Homo sapiens: one gene and its partners. The protein of the gene in region 1 interacts with the protein of each later gene in a biochemical or structural test. Each region holds a gene or a part of one and is shown in the gene's direction. Other genes may lie near its edges.

Region 1 (3,749 bases):
GCGGAAGCAGGCTGCTGGAGGAGGTGATCCAGAGAGCCTGACTCCAAGGAACAGGGACACCTGGGGACAAGGCATGCTGAGGGGTGGAACAGAGCTGTCTGCAGGCCTGGGAGGCCCTGCGCTCTATTGCAGGATGCGGAGGCAGGGCTGTCATCGGACGTGGAGGGAGCGTGTTGGTGTCAGACTCAGGAGGGAAGGATGACTGGGGAGGCACCAGCCCCTCCCTGGCCAGCCCTCAGGGGTCCCCATCACTCCTAGGACATTTCCCCGACTCCCTAGCATGGCACTCAAGGCTCCTGATGGCCTTCACTCAACCTCCCACCTGGCCTTATTACCCATTACTTTGCTTCACACTCTGCCTCCTCCGGACCCTACTGTTCGCCACAAGCTCCCTGCACATTTCTACCCCAGGGCCTTTGCTCAAGCTGTTCTCTCTCCCCATAGTGCTTTTTCTCCCCACATCCACCTGTCTAAAGCCTCCAGGCGCAGCTCCAGTGCCCCCTCCTCCGGGAAGCCTTTCTGATCTACCACGAAGGGGTCTCCACTCCCCAGAGTGACTTTATCTGATCTCTCCCATGACTATGAGCCTGTGGAGGGCAGGGAGCCATGGCCAGCTCTTTGTGGGTCTCCCATTATCTCAGCACAGTGTCTTCTACATGGTATGACACATGCATTACCTTACACACAACACATGTGTTTTGAGTTGACCTGACTTGGACATCGTGGGAAGGACCACAGGAAGATCGATCATAGCCACCATCTAGCAAAGGCCTGCCACATGCTGGCCCCTGCGCAAGATGTCACACATGTGTGATCTCATTTGATCCCCCTGGGAGATGGCTATTAGCATGCACAGGACACCCATGGGGAAGCTGAGCCTCACAGCCACTAAGAGGCTTGCCTCCCAGGCTTACACGGTCCTGTCCAGCTTCAGAGCCAAGGTCCATGCAGAACCTCGCGGGGGCCCTCATTTCTTGATCTTAATGAACCCCCCTTTCAGGGGCAGGGATCAGGCTCTCCTAGGAAGAGGAGGGCAGGCAGAAGGGAGAAGAGAGCCTGGAGCCGAGATGCTTCCAACCCACCCCAGAGGATTCCTCACTACCCAACCCCCAACCCCAGACTTGGGTGGGCTGGGCTCTCTCTGCTGCTGTCTCTCCCCGGGACACTCTGCTCAGCTGCCTTAGATGCCCTGGCCCAGGCTAGAGGAAGGCAGGCAGCCAGGAGAGGGCAGGGAAACCCTAGCAGAGAGCCTAGAAAGCCGCTTTTGCCCCAGCTCGGTCCTGATGCTGGTGAGTGCCCCTCTCTGGTCCTGTCCTTATATACAAAATGGGAACAAGGATTCCTGCCCACTCACCATCAACTATCAAACGTTTATCAGGTGCCTCTAAGTGCCAAGGGAGGGCTGGCTGCAAACCTGAGCAGGGAGGGAGAATTAGGTGAGGCAGCTCCTGCTCAAGGCCATGGTCACCAGCAGTGTGTTGTCACTGCCTCTGTCCCTGGGTCTCTGGATGCTGGCTTGAGACCTTGTCCCGCCTTTGTGCATCTTGGCTGAGTTGAAGGACCCACTTGCTGAAGGACCTTGGACCAATCACTTCCCCTCTCTGAGCCTCAATCTCCTTTTCTATAAGAGGTAGAGGCTTGGAAGTCCCAAGCTCCTTCCCCAGGCACCTCCCTTGTACGTTGAGATGGATGGCTGAGGCTGCTGAGGCCAGGTTATGGCCAGGTGCTCTCAGCAGCCTGGAGGTCCCTGATCCCTGGTGGCCCCTAGTGGACTTTGTTGTCCTGGACAACATCACAGAAGCTGGAGAAATAGGCCCGACCAGATCTACCTTCCCAAGTCTCTCCGAAGGATTGGGTGAAGGTATCCCAGTAGGGCCAGCTCTATGCGTGTGGCCACCTATCCAATTGCACAGGGCCCCATGCTCAGAAGGGTCCTGCACCTTGTTTAATACTCTGATGTCTACATCTTGAAATTCTTAATCATTTTTGAGCATGGGCCCTGTACTTCCATTTTGCACTGGGTCTTGCAAGTTCTGTGGTGAATCCTGCCTCACACCCTCATATGGCTTCAGGCACAAAGTTTCTCAGCCCCAGACGAGACCCCAGAGCGGGATCCTGCTACTGCCAATGCCTGTGCCCCTGTGAAGGGAGGGTAAAATAGTCACACTGGGCCCTTGACATTGGAGGGGGAAGAGGGAGAGAAGGTGGGTTGGGAAAAACAGGCAGCCCCAAATCTCTGGCACCTGAGATTAAGGTGGAGAGAGCTTCTGGGCTGAGGATGGTAGGTTTGCTGGGGGTTGGGGAGGCCCCTGCTGCAGATACAAGATCAGATAAGCCTGAGAGCTGGCTCCCCATGCTGCCAGCCATGAGGGGTTAACAGCAAAGGGATGGACCTGAACCTTCGGAACTGACACCTTCCTGAGCAGCCAATCAGTTGCCAGGACTCGTGGGGCTGCACCGTGATTGGCTCTTGCCGCCTGCTCTGTTGTATAGACCCTATATTGGAGCCGGCAGGGCCCTGTGAGTTCTTTGCATCAAATCCCCCGTTTCGCAGATGGGGAGCCTGAGTCTGCTCTGTGGATGGCCCCGTGCTAGGTGTTGGGGATACAGAAACATGGCAGGAAGACAGTGCCCTCGTGTGCCTGTGGCATAGAGGGGCGCCCCCTTACACCTCACCTCGTTAGAACCAAGCTCGACGGAAGCCCTGGTGAGCTTTTAAAACTGAAAGTTAGGCTGGGCGCCGTGGCTCATGCCTGTAATCCCAGCACTTTGGGAGGCTGAGGCAGGCAGATCGCTTGAGCCCATGAGTTCGAGACCAGCCTGGGCAACATGGAGCAGAAACCCCATCTCTACAAAAAATACAAAAATTAGCCGGGCATGGTGGTGCATGCCTGTAGTCCCAGCGACTCGGGAGACTGAGGTGGGAGGATCGCTTGAGCCTAGGAGGGTGCGGCTGCATTGAGCTGTGATTGTGCTACTGCACTCCAGCCTGGGCAACAAAGTGAGACCCTGTCTCAAAAAATAAAATAAAATAAAAAGAGCCTCCCAAAAAACAACTGAAAGTTAACCTGGCCTAAATCTCTCCTGTGGCTCCCTTCACACTTAAAACTCATCTTAATGCGCAAACCGTGAACAACAGCCCCCGTCTCCCCAGCCTCATTTACCACACCCCTTACCCACTTCACTCCAAGTACACAGACTGCCTTGATGATCTCTGCCTCCCCCGAACCTCTTCACTCCCCTTTATGACACCCAGAACCCTCCCTGCTTCCTGTCATTCAGTTCCCTGCTTAAACATCGCCTCCTTGACCCCCTGTCTACAGCAGCCCCCCGTCTCCAACCTGCCCTCTCCATCCCACCACCCTGCTTGGCTGTCTTCATAGGCCCCCCGACAGCCCGACTTCATCTTGCTGCTCCTTTGCTGCCACTCCTCCTCTTGGATGGAAGCTCCCTGAGGACGGGGCCCTTATCTGCCTCACTCCCTGCCATCGCGCCAGTTTCTAGAACAGAGCTGAGCCCATTCCTGTTGCTCCGTCATGACTGCCTCCCCGACCCCGGGGAGGAAGGCAGGGCTCAGCTCTGCATGGAAGAATGTGTGCTGCTAATTGAGGTTGAATCATTTGGCACTTAATTTTCACTTTCATTTGAAATCCTCTCTTCGGTAAACTGGCGAATCCAGCCTGGGATTCCAGTGGACAGGATGACATCAGCCTCCCTAGCTGTGTGCGCCAGGCCCCACCAGGTTCTGC
Region 2 (3,749 bases), on another chromosome or scaffold:
ATGTACTCTCAAAACACACCATGTATTTTTTCTTTTCCTATGCTGACAAAAAAAAAATTAAATTTGTCTGCTTCTGTCTTCCCCATTACATCTTTTAGCTACTTGAGGTCTAGGACTGTGTCTTGTTTATTTCTGTACCTTTCCGTGGCTCCTTGCATATGACCAGGAATTAAGTATATTTTGATAATTGGAGTCCTTTTAGAACTTTCTAAAATTATGAATGCTCTCTCATCCCCCAATAAATACATTAATCTATAATACAAATCTGTAAAATATGTATTGATTTTACAGATTTTTCTGGGAAGGGGTGCTCCCATACCCTCCGATATACACTGGGCTCTGGAGGGAAAAAAAAAGCCAGGTTTGCCTAGTGAGGTGTTCCCTAATAACATGAGAAATGAGTGGTGGAATAGAGACCATGCATTTACCATTTTTCATTTTTAAATATTTCTTGTTACAATTAATGTATTCTGCCTGTGTTATTTTAATTGTCTCCTAGGTACAACATAAGTTCCACAGGGCAGCAGAGATGTCGCCTGCGGTCTATTGCTGCACAAGGGAACTAGAACAGTACTTGAAAGAAAAGAGGTGCTCGATAAATGTTATGGAATGAATAAATGTATCCCCTCTTGAGGGTGCAGAGCTATAGAATGTGTAAGTTACTGCCTTCTGTGTAAATTAGGGTTTGCTTTGTTTTTACAATAAAGTTATGTACATTGTTTCAAGGGCTGTATTCTGTCTATGCTATTTTAAAATTTATAGAATAAAGTGGTATTAGGCTTTTAGTATTTTTGCTCATTTTAATTATATACTATTTTCCTTTTCATATTTTTCTAGGCTAATCTCTTCTCACGTGAAATGACTCCCTTGATTATTCCGATTTCATTGACTCTAAGTAGAAGGCAAACCCTGTGGTATCAATTTACAAAGGGAAATGAAGAAGATGCAGTACATTTAGGTGAAAACAAAATAAACGTCAGTTTCTCCAAATTTGTGTGCTTAGTCAGATCTAAATATATTGATGTAGTGTAAATACTGAATATTGAAATATTAACCTAAATAAGCATTTATTATTGGTAACAGCTACGGGAATATACAGCATGAATGTGACTTGGCTGCTTAAAAACTGTTCCTCAGATGGTTTAAACATGGCCTCCGAGACTTGTTCCCATTTAAATTACTTCATAAACCATTTCCTCAAATATGGTACAAAGTCTATTTTGGCACTTGTTAAGTTGTCACAAATTCTGAGTTGGAAGACTATGAATTAATGAAGTTTTACTTCCTTTTGTAATTTCTTTCCTAGGTTTCATCAAAGACAGTACTTTCGCTTGCTTGTTTGTTTCATTTGAAGAAAAATCAGCCAAAACTATTAAAAACAATATTTGACTGTTTGTAGTGCAATACAAAGCTACGTCTTGAAATTATAACCAACAAAACTCCAAAAATCTGTTTAAGGACACATTTTTAAATTTAGGACCGTAGTATATGCAGTTAACAATCATCATTTCTTAGCACTCTACATTCACTGCCAGCAAACTTTCAACGTATCTGGTTGATAATGAAGCTGGCGGGGACCCAGTGGGAACAGAAGTGAGTGGTACAAAGTAAAGCCGATGTGAATTTATTGCTACTGGTTTCAGGCTCCTTACCTCCATAGGCTTATGCACTGCAATGACCTGATTATCAGAAATACCCTCACAATTATTCATAATACCCATAGCTATAGGCTCCACACTCTTGCGTGTACATTCATGCATCTCCACGTCACACGGGCTGTCATGCTCGCACATGTGCCATTAATTGACAAGAATGCTGCTCAAGTTGGCTGATCAAGAGATAGGCAGTGCAAAGGAACAGGATTTGAGACAGCCCAGGGTTTCCTCTTCAAGTAGGTCTAAAACATTTTTTTTTCTCATTGACTTCCTTCCTGTTCTAACTGCCAGTACTCAGAAGTCAGAGTTGAGAGACAGAGGCACCCCGGACAGAGACGTGAAGCACTGAATGTAAGTTCAAATACCTCGGGCTGGGGAGGCTTCAGGTGGGCACAGAGCAAAGTCGGAAACCTCTAGACGGGGCTACCGCCCTCGACAGTTTATTATTTTTTTAGAGGGGCAGTTCTTCTTTAAAACAAACTTTATGATAAGAAATTGCTAAGGAGGCTGCAGAGAAGGGGAAGTTAGAGGAGGGAAGGGTAGCAGTGACTCAGGGGAGGAGGCTTAAAAAAGGAGGGTACAGGGTGCGCTGCAGCCCAGGAAGTGCAATCCTGAATATTCTCAGAAGGGCTCTGAGAACACGCACCGGGAGTGCCTGGAGGGGTTTCCTGCAAAGTAGGAGCAGGCACCTGGCCAGGCTTGGAAGAAAAAGACTGTAGATCCAAAATGATACGGTCTGTGCTGGTGGATGGTGGGTTGTGCTGGGGTGGAGATATGTGGTTTCCTGTTTTTAAGCAGACAATGTAAAAAGACTGGTTGAAAGAGAAAAAAAAATGGTTCAAAGCTGTCAAATATTAAACTGTCTTCCACTAAATAATTTTCTGGTGATATAAGAGAAATGCATAATGAAATCCTCCCTTAGAGTGCAGGGGCTTTATCCCTCAAAGAGGAAGTATGGTATAGCACATTGTTATGTACTCATGAGTCATACAGTGATAGAATTTCTACCACTGACAAAGGCTGTGTATTAAATTCCTGCAGTCGGATGGGCAGATCTTTGCTGTTGTTGTCAAAAATAATAATAGGGCTGGGCGTGGTGGCTCACGCCTGCAATCCCAGCACTTTGGGAGGCCGAGGCGGGTAGATCACCTGAGGTCAGGAGTTCAAGACCGGCTTGACCAACATGGTGAAACCCCATCTCTACTGAAAATACAAAATTAGCTGGGTGTGGTGGTGCATCCCTGTAATCCCAGTTATTTGGGAGGCTGAGGCAGGAGAATCACTTGAACCCAGGAGGCAGGGGTTGCAGTGAGCCAAGATCACGCCATTGCACTCCAGCATGGGCAACAAGAGCGAAACTCTGGCTCAAAAAATAAAAATATTAATAATGATAATAGCCCTTTAGGTATGAGATAACTAACAGCAAACATGGAAAACACCAAATAACGTATTAAGAGACAGGTTTGAGAAAAATTCAAGGGGGCCCAGCTAGGACAGCTGATCAGTGGGCCTTCAAAATGTCAAGGTCTGAATTTCAGCCACCATTAGGAGAAGTGCTTTAGGTATGACCTGAAATACTTTCTTCCCTTTTAGAGGACTTCCCAGCCAGCATGTTTCATAAACATAATCTGTAATTAAACTCTAGACCTATGGTAACTTGAGGTGTGTGTCTGGCAAGCCCTGGGCAGTTCTTCATTCAGAGTGGGGAAAGGCAGACTGCTCTCACCCGGAGGGCTCATGGTCACCACTTCACATGGAGACCTAGAGCCCCTGGAGTCAGGGTTGGCCTGGCCATCTTCACTGCAGGGATGGTCAGGCACAGGAGATCAAGAGGACCATGGCACCTGTTGGTCCGGAGAGACAGGGGGCAGAGGTCCAGTCCCTAGCAGGCATCGTGAATCTTGCCATTGGCTTTGTGTTTTTTTAATTTGTAAGAATATATTCCCTCCCAAAGCAGATATAGCACAAGCTTAGTAACAAGAGCATCTTACTCTTTTGTGAGATGTGTGAAATTCTAAGAGACAGTTCTTTCTCCATCCATGCTTCACAGATGCAAAACCTGAGGACTAACTATGCTGTCACTGAACAGAAACT
Region 3 (3,749 bases), on another chromosome or scaffold:
CTGCAAGCCCACTGCAGGCCAAAGTAAACAAATGTCCTGTGTGTCTCCCTGGGCTAGCATAGGGTTTTTTTTCCCCCCAGTCTGTTCTTGGAGGGTATAGCGCCTTGAATTTCCAGTCCTATGCAGGATCACAGTCCTGACTTCTTGTATAGGCCCAAGTCCTTGTCTTTAGTTTCCTGTGCACCTATTAAAACTCTAGAGATTTCTGAGATAAGTAGGTGCCCTCAACACAACCATGGCTTCACTGCCCTGCTTACCACTCTGGTGTCCTGCCCCTTCTTCAGGTTGAGTGTGAAATTTGGAAGACTGTCAGAAACATTCTATTTTCATTCTTGCAAGTTATGCCTTTGAAAGGATGTCTTATTTATCCAGTGTTTCTGTGTGTTTAATAATCAGAGCATTTTTCAGGTTATCTCTTACTGTGCCATGTTGCTCCTTGATTCCTTTCTCTCCTGTACCCACTGCATCAATTGAGTTTTTTGCTCTACATTGATAGAGAAGCACAATTCCTCTTTCTTTCCACTGCCTTCCTACTTTATTTCCCTTCTATTCTTGCATCTCTATACTCCATTATCCACATTGCAGTCTAGTGATCTTAAAGTGTAAGCCAGGTAACATCGCTTTCCTGCTTAAAAAAGCCTTTTAATGGTTTTTTGTAATATAGACTTTTTACCATGGCATTCAGGATCTTTCATGACCTGAATCTTGTCTGCTGTAGTGTTTTCTTAATAGTACCGCCTTCTTGTTCTAGGCCCCAGCTACACAGGCCTTCTTAACTGACCGTAGCAAGCCCTTTTCTTTCTTCTCCTGCCTGTATTGCTTTTCTCTGGGTGCTTCTTATTGCTGTCTCTTTCTGTTCTTGCCTTAAGTGTCACCTCCTTAACGAGGCCTTCTCCGACCACCCTATCCAAAGTAACCTCGCCAAGTTTTTTCTTATACCAGGTGTGACTACTTTAATTACTGCGTCCTCATATAAGCTCCACAAAGGCTTGGTGAATCGTGTTCACCCTTGCATTTCTTTTGTGTTTTTTGTTTTGTTTTTGAGGCATGACGACTCTGTCACGCTGAAGTGCAGTGGCCCGATCTTGGCTCACTGCAGCCTCCTCCTCCTGGGTTCAAGCGATTCTCCTGCCTTAGTCTCCCGAGTAGCTGGGACTACAGATGCGTGCCACCATGCCCAGCTAATTTTTGTATTTTTAGTAGAAACGGGGTTTCATCGTGTTGGCCAGGCTGGTCTCGAACTCCCGACCTCAGGTGATCCGCCTGCCTCAGCCTCCCAAAGTGCTGGGATTACAGGCGTGAGCCACCGCACCTGAACCACCCTTGTATTTCTGATGCTTAACAGTGTCTAGTCCATATCAGACACTCAAATATTTGTAGAATAAGTGAAACATTGATGAACTCCTCCGTGGATAAAATAGGGAAGTCTTAATTTGCAAGGAGGTGATACTTAATTTAGCAGCAAAATTTTAGTTAAGAATTTGTAAGCAAAAAAGCAAAATGGATAACGGATGAATTCCCAGAAACAAATGTCGCGGAGCAGATGTGTATAACAGCAATCGTCTGTCAGCGTCTTCCGTCGGCAGAGACCTGCTTGGAGACAATGCTGAATTAAATGAGGGACTGGCTGCTCCTCTCAATACAAAGACTACCCAAGGAATAAAAGCAACGTCTATCACCGAACTACTACTCCCAGCGGCCCCCGCGCGGGCCTGCCCATGGGAGGTGGCGCTCGTCTCCGCCCCGGGGAGCTCCGGCTTCGGGGCGGGAGGGGTTCTGGGTTCTGGCCCCGCCCCGCCCCGCTCCCCGCCGTCTTCCTCCCCCAGGGTTGTGGCCACGCGCAGCGGCGGCGGTTGTTCCGCTTCCCCTCCGGCCCGGGCCGTCGCCATTGCCGAAGGCTCCCTCCCCTCCCCTCCCTGGCGTGCGCAGGACTCCGCCGCCGCTGGGCCTAGCGGTAGCAGCGGCTGCTCCAGCGCGGCGTCTCTTCCCGCCCCGCTTCCCCTTCCCTCCCCTCCCCTCCCCGCACCGCGCGCTAGCCCGGGGCGGCTCCGCAGCCCGCCGGGAGCTCTGACCGAGGCGCCTCGCTGGGGCGGGGACCTTGCCTTGCCCGGGGTAAGTGCACACAGGCCGGCCGGCGCGGGACGCAGGCCGGGTCTCTTCCTCCTCCTTCCTTCTCCGTGGCCTGGCGGGCGGGAGCGGCCCGGGACGGCCGACCTGCCCCGCGCGGGGCCGGGGAGCCGCCACCTGCGTGCTGGGAGCCGCAGCTCCTGGGGCGGTGGCTCATTGTCTGCTCCCCAGGGCCGTTTTCTTCGCTGGCTTTAGCCAGAAATGGGAAGCTCGCTGGGCTGCGGAGGTCTGACTCTTCCTGGACCCAGCCCTGCTCTGAACCTCGCGGCACCACGGTCTCTGCCGACTCTCGGTCTTCCCTCCCCTCGCGTTTCACCCTCTTCCTTTGCTCCGTTTTCTTAATGCTGGACCAGACTCTCCGGTTTTGTTCCTTGATTTTTCCTCTCACTGATTCTCAGCCCCTGCTTGCTCGCTCTCTGTTCACCCGTTTCACTGCTCAGGAATATTGTCGCGAGTAGCTTGACTGTTTTCTCAGCTCCAGCCTGTAACCTCTTTTCCACATTCCACATTGGTAAAAACGTAGAGCGTCCCGGGCGCTTGAGGGCCACCGCTTACGAACTGATCTTTCGGAGCTTCTCCTCGCTCCTGTTTGAGCTTCAGCCTAGGGGTGAAATTTGCTTCTTTAGATAACTTAGGTGAAGTTAAGATTGGTTTTTCACCATGTTTGGCTCTCTTGGAAACACACGCACGCACAAACACAAAACGTTGCCACTCAACCTTTTAACTAATTCTTTAAAGATAAGTCATCCAAGAACAGAAGCGTGTCATCGTCAGTGGGTGTGAGGTTGTACCCATCCTTGTATCTTAATTTTAGTAGTACTCTCCCTGGGCAGTGTGAGCGTGATTTGTTGTCCCTTGATAAATAACGAACTCCGGTTGATATCATTATCTCACTTCTGCGTTACAGGCGATGTGTCCTTTCTTTGTTTTCTTTTTTAACCTTTATAAAAAGACAAAATGGTTAGGCCTAAAATTAAACTACGAAGAGCTGTGTTTTGGATCAAGGTTGTGCACGTCACGTTTTTTCCCCTGCTGTGTTCGACTCTTCCGCTCTTATAAGTAGGCAGGATATTGAAATGTACAAGAATTTGCTCTGGGGATTTTGTTTTTGTAGGGTTGTCCAATAGAATAACACTCAGTAAAGTTACATTGGGATGAAGGCAGTGAATAGTAATTTTTAAAGCAGGTTAAAACTTGTCAACTTTGCCAGAAGGTCTGTGGCTTCTGTAAAGCCCACTCATGCTCGTGTATATATGAAGAGCCTTTTTCATGTTCTGTTAGGAGTATGGATTTCAGGCAACTTTTTCACTGTGTCATCCTCGGCTATTAAATCTTTCGAGCTACTTATTAGCCAAGCACATTGATTGACACTTATTACGGAAAGTGAACCTGTAATAGATGTAGGTCTTAAACCAACTTTCCGATTTGGTAACAGGTTGACCTAAATTCAGTGTATTTTGTGTTTTCACTAAGTAGCCCATTGTTACCTTTCCCTCCAGCAAGGCTCTGAAAAAAGTGGCTCCAATACTCAGCTTCAATACTGTCATCATTTCTTAAATAGTAGTATCAGTTGTCCTTAACTTAATGGATGTTTTATTGGCCTGAGGGATTAAGGTGTAGAA

Evidence for each region.
Region 2: the proteins of RAC2 (region 1) and ARHGDIB are reported together in a solved structure, tested with the Homo sapiens proteins (one study listed by BioGRID and IntAct).
Region 3: the proteins of RAC2 (region 1) and PAK2 form a complex in vitro, tested with the Homo sapiens proteins (one study listed by BioGRID).

The regions. Positions count from the first base shown.
Region 1 is NC_000022.11:37,237,522-37,241,270, reverse strand, and holds part of RAC2 (ras-related C3 botulinum toxin substrate 2), read left to right. Parts: intron 1-3,749. UniProt on the Homo sapiens protein: Plasma membrane-associated small GTPase which cycles between an active GTP-bound and inactive GDP-bound state.
Region 2 is NC_000012.12:14,959,794-14,963,542, reverse strand, and holds the start of ARHGDIB (rho GDP-dissociation inhibitor 2), read left to right. Parts: upstream 1-1,941; 5' UTR 1,942-2,006; intron 2,007-2,262; exon of another isoform or gene 2,263-2,389; intron 2,390-3,749. UniProt on the Homo sapiens protein: Regulates the GDP/GTP exchange reaction of the Rho proteins by inhibiting the dissociation of GDP from them, and the subsequent binding of GTP to them. Regulates reorganization of the actin cytoskeleton mediated by Rho family members.
Region 3 is NC_000003.12:196,738,046-196,741,794, forward strand, and holds the start of PAK2 (serine/threonine-protein kinase PAK 2), read left to right. Parts: upstream 1-1,811; 5' UTR 1,812-2,112; intron 2,113-3,749. UniProt on the Homo sapiens protein: Serine/threonine protein kinase that plays a role in a variety of different signaling pathways including cytoskeleton regulation, cell motility, cell cycle progression, apoptosis or proliferation.